Homo sapiens: one gene and its partner. The protein of the gene in region 2 interacts with the protein of the main gene of each other region in a biochemical or structural test. Each region holds a gene or a part of one and is shown on either strand. Other genes may lie near its edges. The genes, in order: ALB and PRB3.

Region 1 (7,156 bases), on a different chromosome or scaffold from region 2:
GGTACACACATGCACTGGAATATTATTCAGCCTTGAAAAGAAGGAAATTCTGCAATAGGCAACAACATGGTTGGACTTTGAATGCACTATGCTAAGGGAAATAAGTCAGTCATAAAAAGATAAACAGTACATAATACCACTTATATAAGGTAGCTAAAGTAGTCAAACTCATAGAATCAAAGAGTATAATGCTGGTTGCCAGTGGCTGGGGGAGGACGAAACGAGGGGTTACTAATCAATGGGCACAAAGTTTTAATACAGCAAGATGAGTAAGCTATACAACAGTGTACCCGTAGTTAACAATAATGGATTGTACACTTAAAAATATAACAGGGTAGATCTCATGTTAAGGGTTCTTACTATAATAAAATAAGATAAATAAATAAATAAATACATGCTATCATATCCCTATTAGCCTCTACAAAAAGAAACCAAACCTCAAATTTTAAAAAGAGGTGTTTATAAATGACAAATTGCCATTTAAATACACCATGACTGTTGTGTTTGGTCTCAATAAAGAAATGATTTTAAAACTGTGGACATAGCTAAAGCATCTCTATCACAAAAGAAACAATGGCTTATCAGTCTATGAGCAACTTTTTAGTGTTTCTTACAAATCAGGACACTTAATAATAATTGAGAAAACTTAAAAAAAATTCCTTTGAAATGCTTGGGATTACTTCAAACAGAAGAAAGAATCTCCACAATTAGAATGTACTTACAAGTGATTTGTCACAATTTTCAGCTGACTCATCAGCAACACATGTTTTTGCAAATTCAGTTACTTCATTCACTAATTTTACATGATCTTCAAATGGACACTGCTGAAGATACTGAGCAAAGGCAATCAACACCCTGAAACAAAGGATGTAGAAAAATGTAGTATAATAAAACTTTAATATGTAACAGGTTGCTACGCTAGAGAACAAATCATGTATGGGTATAGGTTCTATCTTTTATACATCTTCTTCACCATTATCCAGAAAGCCTATTCATATCAGGTATGATCTGAGGCCTAGATAGGCATATGTGGCTTCCTACGCAAAGAGAATGGTAGTTCCCTAATGTTTATATGTATGCGTGTGTCAGTAGATCTATGCACACACATAGATTAAGCAAGCAAATTGTATGCCAAATAGATCTAATTGTCAAGACTAGGCATTTTTAAAGTCCTTAGAATTACTTAAAACTAAAACAAACCCCACAGATTTCCTTTTTCTTTTTTGAGACAGAGTCTCACTCTGTCACCCAGGCTGGAGTGCAGTGGCACAATCATGGCTCACTGTAGCCTTGACCTCTCAGGTCCAAACGATCCTCCTACGTCAGCCTCCTAAGTAGCTAGGACTACAGGCATGTGCCACCATGCCTAATTTTTTTGTTTGTTTGTTTTGTTTTTTTTAAAGAGACTTGCCCAGGCTGGTCTTGAACTCCTGGGCTCAAGCAATCCTCCTGCATCAGCCTTCCAAAGTGCTGGGATTACAGGTGTGAACCACCGCACCTGATCCCCACACACGTCTTTAATTAGCCTGTAGGATTAGGTAGACTTTTAAAAAAACAATTTTCTCATTTTTTACTAGATTAAAAAACATTTAAATAGGCCGGGCGCGGTGGCTCACTCCTGTAATCCCAGCACTTTGGGAGGCCGAGGTGGGCAGATCACGATGTCAGGAGATTGAGACCATCCTGGCACACGGTGAAACCCCATCTCTACTAAAAATACAAAAGATTAGCCGGGCGTGATGGCGGGCGCCTGTAGTCCCAGCTACTCGGGAGGCTGAGGCAGGAGAATGGCGTGAACCCGGGAGGCGGAGTTTGCAGTGAGCCGAGATTGCGCCACTGCACTCCAGCCTGGGCGACAGAGCGAGACCCTGTCTTAAAAAAAAAAAAAAATTAAATATTCCCAACTAAGCACAGGAATGCTTGCTATGTAAAGAAGATTTAGTGGGTAAGCCACCAAAGGAAACCTATATTAAAGTCCTTTCCACCAAGCAAGTTCCAGAGCTGTACTGTCCAATACAGTAGCCATTAGCCACATGTGACTATATACATTCAAATTAACTACAATTAAATACAATTTAAGTTTTTGTTTCTCAGTTGCACTTGTCATATTTGAAGTACTCAATAGCCATGTGACCAGTGACTACCTTATTGGATAGCCCAGATACAGAATATCTTCCTCAACGCAGAAAACTCTACGAGGCAGCACTGTTTTAGAATCTGAACCCTGATGACAAGGAAATATAAGCACTTTAGAATAATAAACAACACTATTAGAAACATTAAATTTGATTCATCAATATTTTAACTTACAAGGCTTTGAAATTTTCTTCTCCCAAATCTTTAAACCGATGAGCAACCTCACTCTTGTCTGGGCAAGGGAAGAAAAAAAAGGATTGTTAAATACTGAAGAAAACAAGAAGTAATAATGTTACTTTTTATATTTCTTTCCATTTGACTTAGATTATGCATTTGTTTCAAAATATTGGGCTCTGATTCCTACAGAAAAACTCAGGATGATGTTCAATTATTTCTTCTGCCTTTAAACAGAAGAATAATTCAATTACCAAGAATACTATTTTAAAAATTATTAAATATTTATAGCCTTATATTCAAACTTAGATAATATCTAATACTCTTTTAGTGTCTATCAACAGCAACCAAGAAGACAGACTAAAATGAAAATAAATATAAATACAAGTTCTATTTATGAGATCAACAGCACAGGTTTTGTGGTTTTTAAATAAAGCATAGTGCAATGGATAGGTCTTTGGGATAGTTATGAATTCAATCTTCAACCCTATTCTGTGAAGTTTCAGTCACTCTAAGTTACTTTGCACTTTCCTTAGTGCGCAAAAGAAAATTACAGTCACTAAACAATTCTGACCTTTTTTTTTTTTTACCTAGGATGTTTGAATTTTATTAATAAGATAACCTTGTAAGACTTCACAAATACAAAATACTATGCCATTTTAGAAATAAATGCCAAAATAATTCTTTAAAGATGCAGAGTTTACTAAAACTTTATTTTACTGGGAAAATAGAATAAAAGTTGAACAATAGAAAAATGGATTTCTTACGTGCATCTCGACGAAACACACCCCTGGAATAAGCCGAGCTAAAGAGAAAAAGAAGGGAAATAAAGGTTACCCACTTCATTGTGCCAAAGGCGTGTGGGGTTGACAGAAGAGAAAAGCTAGGACAAACGGAGGGAAATTAGCACTAATATACTTCTTTAACCAATAATTGTAGATTATTAACTAGACTCATCTTTGTATTTCATTGGCTGCCAACCGATTACAAAATTCATAATATTCTTGCCAAAAAATTGTTTGACTAAATCCCTTGTGTATATTTACCATCTGGAACTGTTTTCTCCACAAGACCTTGTCAATGTATTAAAGTTGTGTAAAACATCTTATCAAATTTTACATAAGAGTTTAAACGATTTGTACCTTTTATTCATTACCATGGTATTTAACTGTAATTTCCCACTTGAACATTTTAGTTCTTGGTGTTTGCAATTTAGTTCTCAGTGTTTAGTAATTACTAACCAAACTAAATACTTTGCTTAGAAATAAGACATACTGAAAGAGTTAAGTCCCAAATTGCATCTATTGCTAATTCCAAGTGTGCTTTTACCTATAGATAATGAAAAATTTACACACAAGTACTCACGCATGCACACACACATATACATACATACATATTTTAGGGCTTCTGTGTCTTTTTTACTATTCCAAAGCCATTCTGTCTGAAAAAGCTGATGTTGCCTCAGATGCAAACTAAGAAAAAGACATAGCAACAATAACAAGTAAGATAGGACTTAGAAATTCCATGTTCCCATTCCTGCTGTGGCCCACATGTGATTCAAGCCCTGAGATAGGCTATTTAGATTCAGTGTGAGTATATCTCATGGGATCTTCAGTTAAGCAGAGATGGAGAGGAAAATGGACCCAAATGAGATGATGATTATCTTTGCCATAATATACAATAGGACAGGCTGACCCCAAATTCTCTGTAGGTTATGAGAACCCTTGACCTTCACCAGGCATAGGATTCTTTCCATCCCTGTTTCATATTTTTTTCCTTTCTCTCTTTCAATAAGTAGAAAAATCACATGTTCTTTTATGTTGCTTTAAATTTCAAAATAAATTTAACATTATGTCTAAAAACAAAGCGAAGGAAGAATAATTTTTTAAATATTTCATAAATCTTCCTTCCCTACCCAAGGTTCTTATCTCTACCTCAGAAAAGCTATCCTACCTCTGCCCTTTTGCTCAGAATATGAAGAACTACTGAGCTCAACCAGTAGGAAGAACAACTTTCTCTGATACTACAGAACAATAATTAGTACTAAGCCAGTTATTTTACTTAATTAAATAACTCAGTCAGTCAAAACCAGTAGTCAAATTTCCTCATGGCACATAGAGGCACAGAGACTAACAAAGTATTATTTTTTCTACTCAGTCTTATAATGAAAGAAAATTTTTTCTATTCAGTCTTACAATGAAAGAAATTATTTTCTATAATCTTATGTTATTTCTTCTTCAGAAATGGGTACTAATTAACTAATAAAGCACAGAAGAGGAAAAAATCAAAGCTAGATGGATGATAGATACATAGATAGATAGGAAGATTTTTTTTAATGACTCAAGGGAGTCCTGAAAGGAAATACCAGACTTGTCTTTCTGACTACAGATGAACAGACATAAAACAAGTGTGCCTATTTTCCATTGAAGAAAAACAAGCATTTTTTCTAAAGCCAGAAAAACCTACATCTGAAAAGAAAAAAGAAACTATTCTAAGTTAAGAAAATAATTCTTTCTTGGATAAATTATGTCAACTTTTAACTTCCTAGAAATTGTAGGCATTATTTATTAGAAGTCAGTAACCAACTCTAGCTTTTTCCTTGTAGAAGTCCCTGGGAAAGGCCTACCCAAACATAAAATCCTTACTGTTGAATACAATTGTTACTAATTGACAAATTCAGGCCTTTGTCACTCTCACATATACTTTGTGCATACTTTTTCATTTAACAAATGAAAAGAATAATATTAGTCCATTTAGTTTTCACCACAACATTATAATGTAATATATTGTTAAATACAAAGAAACCTAAAAAAATCTCAAATTCATCATGACTGAATAGAAACTTTGAATTGATTTTCCTATATCTAATGAAGAGCCCTAGCTTTAAAACAAAATTGATGAAACCTAAAAGAATCTTTTCTTTTTTTTTTTTTTTTTTTGAGATGGAGTCTCGCTCTTTCGCCCAGACTGGAGTGCAGTGGCACTATCTCGGCTCACTTGCAAGCTCCGCCTCCCGAGTTCACGCCATTCTTCTGCCTCAGCCTCCCGAGTAGCTGGGACTACAGGCGCCCGCCATCACGCCCGGCTAATTTTTTGTATCTTTAGTAGAGACGGGGTTTCACCGTGTGCCAGGGTGGTCTCGATCTCCTGACCTCGTCATCCGCCCACCTCGGCCTCCCAAAGTGCTGGGATTACAGTCATGAGCCACCGCGCCCGGCCAAGAATCTTTTCTTACAGTACTAATGAGGCATTTTGCATATGTGCATCCTACTAAAAGATTAATAGTTTAGAAATTAAAATATTTAATTCTCAATGATATCTGCATACTTAAAATTAATGTTTCTTAAGAAATACTTGAACAATTGCATCTTCTGGATTTGCAAAGTAAAAATTTCTGCATTTTTCTCTGAAAACCTCTGGCATTAATTCTATATGAACATTCTATACTGAGAGAAATAAACCTACATAATTGTTAGTCATTTCTAAATTTCCTGTTCTTCAAACTTTGAAACTCTGTTTAGTCAGTCATCAACGGGCTCTGGCATGAGGGTAAATGCAAATATTTAGAGTAAGAGTTATAAATATGGTTTAGAGATTCTCTTTACTCGGTAAACAGAAAAATAGCCCCAATGATTTTTAAATGTTTTCTCATCTTTGTGGGAGAAGTTTAAAAATAGAGAGTAGTTAAGAAAAGTATTTTCTTTAGAAAGAATAAGTGTACTGATCATTTAGAAAAGAAAAAAAAAATACCTCAATTGAAATGTACATATACCTGGGATTTAAACCTGAGCCTTTAACCCTTTTGTTCTTTGTTTTGCATTCACTTTGACGTGATACAAAAGGCACAGTTTTTAAGTAGATAAAATGTCTCTGAACCGGTCTCCCATTTTCCAGCCACTCTAACAGTAACTTTAAATCCGCACCCTTCTGCTACCCTCAGGACTCCCGAAGCTTCTCACTGAGTCATTCACACCAGGTTTGCCCTCCATCTAGCAATCCATTTAGTCCAGCTTTTATGCCATCTCCCACTCTGATAGGTTATATTTCTGACTCTTCTTCTCTTAAAGATAAAGGGAAACATATTCATGGAAATGTAATAATATCTAATAATATCCTCAATATTTTATAAGAGACTTTCTATAAACAACCACTTTACCCAGAGTCATTCCAAAATACAAGAAATTTGGATTTGTTTGGAGAGAAAATTGGGGACAGGAAAATCTTACCATTTTTCTACTATAAAATAAACATATGCAGATCCTTCCTATCATGAAGAGCTTGTATTACTCTCTACAAAATATGCAAGAGTGGAAAAGTGAAAGACTGTTAAGCATCAAACTAACCAATTGAAACATAATCAGTAATTTAACTTCTTATTCACTTATGGAGATACATTTCCCTCAAAAAAAGTTAGAATGAAAGTGTATAAACTTATATAAGTATTTCTAATGCAAATAAAAATGTATAAACATATAGGTATTCTAATGCAAATAAAAAATTGGAATATAATCCAAACAATTGCTCCCTTATTTCCCTCCATAAGCCATCCCCCCAGATATTCACTTGAATTAGTGAGAAATATGGAATTGGCTGAAGATTTCATAGGGAATGAGGAGAAAAAAGGTTATATCATAAAAACCACCCTAGGTCACCATCTTTGGCTTGTCCCACCTTTTAAGTCCCTCTGCCCCCAGATCTTCCATGATGAAAGAGTCCCTCTCCTTGACTTTCTTCATGTTACACTGGGCCTCTGGAATATATATACATTCGAATTTCCTAACCTTTTACTTTAAATTTCTCAGTTCTTCTCCGTGTGGTTTAATTCAGCTCAGTGTCAGTTTCTAGC
Region 2 (7,582 bases):
TACCTGCATATAAGTTATGGTATTAGTGGTAGGGTAAAAGAATGCTGTATGTCTATGCACACATAAATATTTCAAAGAGAAGATCCCATAAAGTCAACAGTGGTAGCTTTTTGAAGGAAGGAAGGTGAGTAGGATGAGCTACGCCTTTAAAATTAACTTCATATTTTTCCATTCCATTAGATATCTTTTGTTAGCTTAATCATGTACTTACTGAAAACTAAGTATGTAAAAAATGAGACACCATTTAGCTGCTGAAAGATCAGGGACCATTTGGCAGGAATACTGGACTCGAGAGGCTGGCGTGAGGCAGGAATGAGCAAACAGTGCTCAGGTGAAAAATTTAAATGCAATATCTCTGAGTTTGTGGACCGAAAGCAGAGCACCAAGAATGGACATGGTACTACTTCCTCATTGCCAACACAATTTAAGACAGATTGTATGGTATGTTGTTTCTCAACATCAGAGTTCCTTAAAGAGTTTGTTAGAAATACAGGGTCTTCTTACCCTATTCCAGAGTATCTGAATACAAATCTTTAGAAATGGGTTCTAGGACAATACAATGTCAATGGGTTTTTAGTTGATTCATTGGCACAATAAAGTTGGAGAACTGTAACACTTAGAGCACTTGGTGAAGAATAAACTGGAATCATACCTGTCATTGAACCTTGATTACTGGGGAGGCTGTCCCTGGGGAGGTCTGTGTGGTCTGCCCCCTTGAGGAGGTGGAGGTGGTCCCTGGGGCTTTCCAGCGGGAGGTGGCAGAGGCTGCTGGGGATTGCCTCCTGGTGGGGGTGGTCCTTGTGGCCTTCCTGGAGGAGGGGGACGTTGAGGTTTGTTACCTTCTTGTGGGGGTGGTCCTTGTGGCTTTCCTGGATGAGGTGGGGGACCTTGAGGTTTGTTGCCTCCTTGTGAAGGTGGTCCTTCTGGCTTTCCTGGACGAGGTGGGGGACCTTGGGACTGGTTTCCTCCTTGTGGGGGTGGTCCTTCTGGCTTTCCTGGACGAGGTGGGGGACCTTGAGGTTTGTTGCCTCCTTGTGGGGGTGGTCCTTCTGGCTTTCCCGGACGAGGTGGGGGACCTTGGGACTGGTTTCCTCCTTGTGGGGGTGGTCCTTCTGGCTTTCCCGGACGAGGTGGGGGACCTTGGGACTGGTTTCCTCCTTGTGGGGGTGGTCCTTCTGGCTTTCCCGGATGAGGCGGGGGACCTTGGGACTGGTTTCCTCCTTGTGGGGGTGGTCCTTCTGGCTTTCCCGGACGAGGCGGGGGACCTTGGGACTGGTTTCCTCCTTGTGGGGGTGGTCCTTCTGGCTTTCCCGGACGAGGCGGGGGACCTTGGGACTGGTTTCCTCCTTGTGGGGGTGGTCCTTCTGGCTTTCCCGGACGAGGTGGGGGACCTTGGGACTGGTTTCCTCCTTGTGGGGGTTGTCCTTCTGGCTTTCCCGGACGAGGTGGGGGACCTTGGGACTGGTTTCCTCCTTGTGGGGGTGGTCCTTCTGGCTTTCCTGGACGAGGTGGGGGACCTTGGGACTGGTTGCCTCCTTGTGGGGGTCGTCCTTCTGGCTTTCCTGGAGGAGGTGGGGTACGTTGGGGCTGGTTTCCTCCTTGTGGGCGTCGTCCTTCTGGCTTTCCTGGAGGAGGTGGACACACGGCATTCACTGAATAGTTGCCGCAAATTTTTACAGTAACGCAGCTAAATGGGGAAATGCACAAAAATAAGACCCAGACACTAATTTCTTTGCATTTTCAGTGAAGCTCTAGAACTCTGGAGTGGAATGCTGGAGAAGAAGGAAGCAGTTGAGGGGCTCTCAGTCTAAGGAGGAGTCAGAATAAGGACACTGGCCATTTGTCTGTCATCTCCCAGCAGGCACTCCTGGCAGGAGGGAAGTCAACCCACTCCCGTTTTCATCTAAGCCAAGCATCTCTGCCATTCAATTTGGTGGCCCTGCTCATGGTCCCCAAAATCAAGGTTGCATGAAGATTGCCTGCATTATTAGGGGGACTAATATTAATCAATTTCTAAAGGAAAATGTTGGTGAGAAGACACTGGAGAACTGATCCATTCATAAGCAGAAGAAGATAGTTAAAACAGATTGAGAGTGAATTGGGATTTACCTGATATTACGGAGGGAGATTCTTCCTGGCTGACATCTAGAAGAGAAGCACAGGATGATGGGAAAGGTTACATCTCGAATTTTGCAAGATTCACAGGTGTTCTACAGGGAAAGGGGACTTCTCACCACACCCCATGCATCCCCTAGGTTAGCTCATCAGCTACCATCTGTGAAGCTGCTGGAAGGGGAGGAAGGTGTAAGGGGAGGCAGGGTTGTTACCACACAGAGCAACAGCCATGAACTCAATATAGAAGAGCCCCTTTTTTTCTTCCCTAGCATCCTTCAAGACTTAATGCTAATTTAGTTTACACATGCCAGGTACTTCAATGTGATATTTTGGTATTCTTATGCCCTCCATCTCCTATAAATACATTGCTTATATTCACAAGCTTTCTCAATTTCGGTAACCAGAAGTAATTGTTTCAATACAATCTTACCTATACCACTCCCAGCACATTGAAATACTGTGTGTAGGGGAAAGAAAAATCACAATGATTGAATCTGATATTTCTATATCTGTAGTTAGACACAGGCAAGTGTTTTATCCAGTTCTGTCTCTGCAGTATCTCTAATGTGTGTTTATCTCCATCATCAATGCTGATCCACTAGGTAGAGCAAGGCCACAATCATCCCTGTGTACTTACTGAGATCAGTTTAGGATCTTCACAGCTGGACTTTCCTGAATCTGCCTTGCATTCACCACTGCATCCTTCACAGCACAGTTCTATCTCTCTATAAATGCAAATCTTACCTTCTCATTCCCCTGGTACAAATTCTTTATTGGATTTTCATTGTACATTAAATAAATTAGAAGCCCTTGGTGTGGAATGAGGGCACAACAGGTCTCCTGATCCTAGGCATGAAACCTCTGCAGCCCCATCTGTGTTTTCATTCTCCTCTCTTCCCCATAATTACAACTATCACCTCCTAAGCCCCAAGCAGAGTCACCACATCTTCTCCTCCTTCTGTCTTACCTTCATTTAAGCTCTGAGCTGAGCTCAGGGCCAGCAGGGCCACCGACAGCAGAATCAGTAGCATCTTGCTGGAGGCTCTGGAGTCACTCCCAACTCTGTGCTGGGAGAACCATGGCAGCTCCCTTTATAAAGAGGAGCAGAACAGTGGCACCTTTGAGCTCCACACTGGGTGGGCCTCACCACCCCAGAGACTGGGTTCTGCTTTCCTTACTGCAGGTCAGGTGTATCCCTTATTTCTGTCTGGGACTCTAGCCCAGAGGAACAGGTTGGGTTGGATGTTGTTTGTACCTTATTTCTAAAAGGTACAACTATGACTTGAACAAAGGTTTTAAAGGAACTGTGTCCAAGCAATCAGCACGGTGTCATAATTGAACTTCAGACGTCATTAGAGTTTCAATCTTTTTGGTAAGACTATTGTCCACTTTCAACTTTGCTATTTATTTCTGTGTATGTGTGTGTGGGCAGTGAAGCTACAGCCAGCGGTGATGATGATCAATATCTCTGGCTGTTTTTATAGCCTATTTCCATCTCTCGTGATGTGTGTGTACAGAGAGTATCACATTTAGCTTAACTTTTGATGCGATAGAGATAGTTTCTGCTATCTGGGAGATGTTTGAGGACAGCACACTCCTGGGCACACAGATGACAGAAGGCTGCCTCACAGCCTACTCAGGCTACAGCTATTGTTCATGCTTCTGTGGATCTCACTCAAGTCAGGAAAGGCTTCTTGTTGTGAAACACAGGAAGGCCAAAATTGTGTATTTTAAAGTATCTTTAGGGGTTATGAATGCAAAATGGACACACAAACCACGAGGAAATTTCTAGACCTGAGAAAACTGAATATATAGTTCCTTGCAGGAACCATGCAATATCATGTTGCCAAAACTTCCTTCATGCTCTTCCCTTTCTCTAGAATATTCTACAAAATTCACCCTCTGCTTCATTTCTTTTAAGAATTGTATTGAATTCCTACCTCTGATAATTAAGTGGCTACAATTCTACATTCAAATAAGGTAATCAGATACCCTCATTAAAGCCTCAATTGCATTGTATTGGTTTTCTTGGTTTAGTCAGTATTTGTGTTACCTGTTTTCTCAGATTGTTCTTCCACAAAGAGTATTTTTTCTACAATATTCTGATATGCATTCCTCCCTGACGTTCTTTCTGGTACTTCTTTGTTCATATTTTATTTTCTGAGTCAAGCTCATTTTGTGTAATTTTCTTTATATATCTGGCTTTTTTCCCCAGGAATTTGGTAAGATTTCCTTTATTTAATCTTCTAAGTAATAAGCTATAATTCTCACCACCTTTGTTTCATTCTTGTCTGTGTAATTTCACAATAAATGTTGTGTTTCCAAAAAGCCCTCTCAGAGTCCTGCATTGTTAGCACTTCTTTTAGCTGCTGATTCTTCTGTTATACCTAGTAAATCCCTGCTCATCAGTTCATGGAATATACAGGTTAGTCAGTGAGTCAGCTGCCATTTACCACTTAGACCTTCTGTGTGTCTTGTGTAATTGTTCACATTTTGTGCATGGCTGGTATTAATTTGAGGACAGCTTGGCTGGAGGTATGATGGAGGTAGAGAGGGTATGTGACAGTAAATCCTAAAGACAGACCTCTTGACCATTGTGGATGAGTGGATCCTGGACTGTGCAGATGAGGGTCTGGTCTGGCCCTTCTGAAGAGTTGGGGGTAATAGTACAGGAAGACTTCCTAATACAGAAGGCTTTGCTACAGATAACTTTGCCCTTGCAAGGGAACCAGGAAGATTGATATTTTCCCTGGCAAAAATATAGACATACTTGAAAGGGGAATATATTATTAATTGGAAATTATTTCTGGCTCTATGGAAAGTGGACTGGTTCTAGCTAGTCTTCATGAGTTTTATCTTAGGCAGAGAGTACTTGCTTGTGCCAGCAGGTCCCATTATATTATTGAGATTTCTATCTCTGGTCTCCTCCATAGGAACTGGAGATGACCAATCCTGCCTAGGTGTCTTAAGTTAGACCATCAGGTAACAAAGGAATGTCAGAAACAAGGAGCAGCAGAGAGGCCAGGCCAACATTGCCTGATGTTGTCGCCAACTTAGGTTGCTGCAGGCCTGATACAAGAAAGATTTGTCCTTGGCAGGAGAGTAGAGGAAGACAACAGAAATGCCCCTAAAAGTCCCTTATCTCAGGCCCTTTCCCTGACTTTCTCCAATGTCAGCAATGAGTAAAGTGTATCAGGAAAGCATAAATATCAGCTATGCACTAACCAGACAAAACAAAAACAGAAGTGATGGAAATGTGGAAAGGGACACTGTCTGTGAGTGAGGGTGGGTGGAAGAGAGGAGCAGGACTGCAGCAGGAGATTGGGCATCTAGAGGTGAGTGGCAGCCCTCAGCACTCCACTTGCCTTCTAATATCCATGTTCATATTCTGAGGCCCTGAAGGAACAGTCTTCAACATATGAAATTTTAGGAAACACAATTCAGCTCTCATAACAACTCCCAACCTTTTCTAAGTCACTAACAGGTGTTCAGTGGTTCAAAAATCCTCACTCCCTTCAGGCACTGTCCTTTAGCAAATTGAGTTGCCTCCACTTTCAACACTCATCCCAAATAAAACCACTTGCATAATCTTTACTAGAAGGTGATAGTTCAGGCCACGATGCACTCTCCTGAAGAGCTTAATATCCTCAGCTGCTCTTGGTAACATTCCTACCCCAGCATTAGCTCTCTCACACCCACACATCTCTCTCTTTTTGAAGACTGGGAAGTTCTGTGAACGGAACAGAAAGCAGAATTTTCCTCAACTTACTGTGCTCATTGCATAAACCAGCCATTCTAATAATACGGTTGTGTGTGAGAATTCAGATTTGCTTGGAATTGTCTAAAAGCTTCGGTTACACTGATGTAATTGTCATCTTTATATTATATTATATTATATTATACTATATATTATATGATAACATAATATATATTATGTGATGGTCATCTTTATATTTTTATTTGATGTTGATGCTCTCTAAATATATATTTCACAATTATTTGAGCATATTTATATTCTTTCCATTTATCCTAGCAAAGGCTGATTATAATAGAAAACACTTCTTCAGCATTTACTATGATATTCAGTCTTCAGAACTATCATATTAGGGAGGTGTGATTATTATTATTATCTTAATTTTGTAGATGAGGTGATTTAGGTGCGTGCCTAGGTTCATGTAAAGGTAGTGAGTGGAATGGAAGGGAGTCAGTTCTCAGATCTGAGTTCTTGCCTACTGTGCTTCACTGGTTACTTGGTCTTCATTCATTCATTTCTTTACAAGAAAGTGAAAGGAAATGAGATTCAGAGAAGAAAAACAAGTTTCTCTTAGAATATTTTCAAGGTTAAATTTTCCTGAGACTTTAACAGCTGAGGTGAGAAAAAATATATTTTCCTGAGTAAACATGTTTGTTTGAAATCGTAATCACATTTAAAATGTCTTCTAGTATTCTGCTTTACCCCTTGCATTTATATAAAGATACTCAGGGGAATTAATTCCTTTTTTTCCTAGTTACAAAACTCTGTCAATGTAGATCCTGTATGTACTTCCTTAATCCATGCTACATGCATTTTTCTTGGGTAGCATATTAGCATTGGCAAAATTTGTGTATGCCCTTTTAAATTGACTAAATTTGATCCTTCTAATCACAATGGAATTAACATTCTAGAAATCCAAGAGGGAGTCTGATCAGAGAGTTGTCTAAGAAAGGATAAATTGTACACCGCTTACACAGCTTTCATATTCTGCATGAAGATGTCGCCTGTGTCCTGGCCCCAGAGCTGGTGTACCATCCTGAGTGGTTGGGGCTGTAGAAGGCATTGGTCATCAGCCTAAGGTCAAGTGTCTGTAGCCTCAGCTCACCACTGTTATCTCAATGTCAGAGTGTATTCTTGACCTTTCAGTTACACTTCCTAGCAGTTCATAGAGAAGTACAATCACAACTTATCTCATAAGAAATACAAAGCAATGTATATCACCCTCGTATTTTCCTGATGATGTACCAAGTCGGTAAGCTGATACATTTAAGAGGAATTTCATTAAAGTGATTAATCAATGACTCACTTATTAAACAGATAAACCTGTACCTATTTCTTACAAAAGACGTTTTCTCTTCTGCTTAAAAACCACAAATTATTATTTTATTTCATTGATATTGAAATCCACATGTATGCATATTTTTCATCTTGGGAATTGGAATGTGTGGCACATTGTGTTTTTAAAAGTTGATCACGACAGAATCATTCATCTAATGTTTTCTTACAATGGTACCTTGACATCCTCTCTTGAAGGGGTGAGGTCTGTTTTTACCCCCTTGAGCTTCGTTAGAACTTCGTTACTGCCATGACCAATAGATTATATCAGAAGTGATACTTTATGACTTTTGAGTCTAGATCATAGAAATGCCATGCAATTCCAAACTGTTCTTTATGGAACCTGCCACATGCTGCGAGGAAGCCCATGCTGTGAGA

The links.
Region 1: the proteins of PRB3 (region 2) and ALB form a complex in vitro, tested with the Homo sapiens proteins (one study listed by BioGRID).

The regions. Positions count from the first base shown.
Region 1 is NC_000004.12:73,400,328-73,407,483, reverse strand, and holds the start of ALB (albumin preproprotein), read right to left. Parts: upstream 3,198-7,156; 5' UTR 3,157-3,197; coding exon 3,078-3,156; intron 2,369-3,077; coding exon 2,311-2,368; intron 856-2,310; coding exon 723-855; intron 1-722. UniProt on the Homo sapiens protein: Binds water, Ca(2+), Na(+), K(+), fatty acids, hormones, bilirubin and drugs. Its main function is the regulation of the colloidal osmotic pressure of blood. Major zinc transporter in plasma, typically binds about 80% of all plasma zinc.
Region 2 is NC_000012.12:11,266,524-11,274,105, forward strand, and holds the start of PRB3 (basic salivary proline-rich protein 3 isoform 2 precursor), read right to left. Parts: upstream 3,185-7,582; 5' UTR 3,147-3,184; coding exon 3,083-3,146; intron 2,146-3,082; coding exon 2,110-2,145; intron 1,626-2,109; coding exon 670-1,625; 3' UTR 653-669; intron 1-652. UniProt on the Homo sapiens protein: Acts as a receptor for the Gram-negative bacterium F.nucleatum.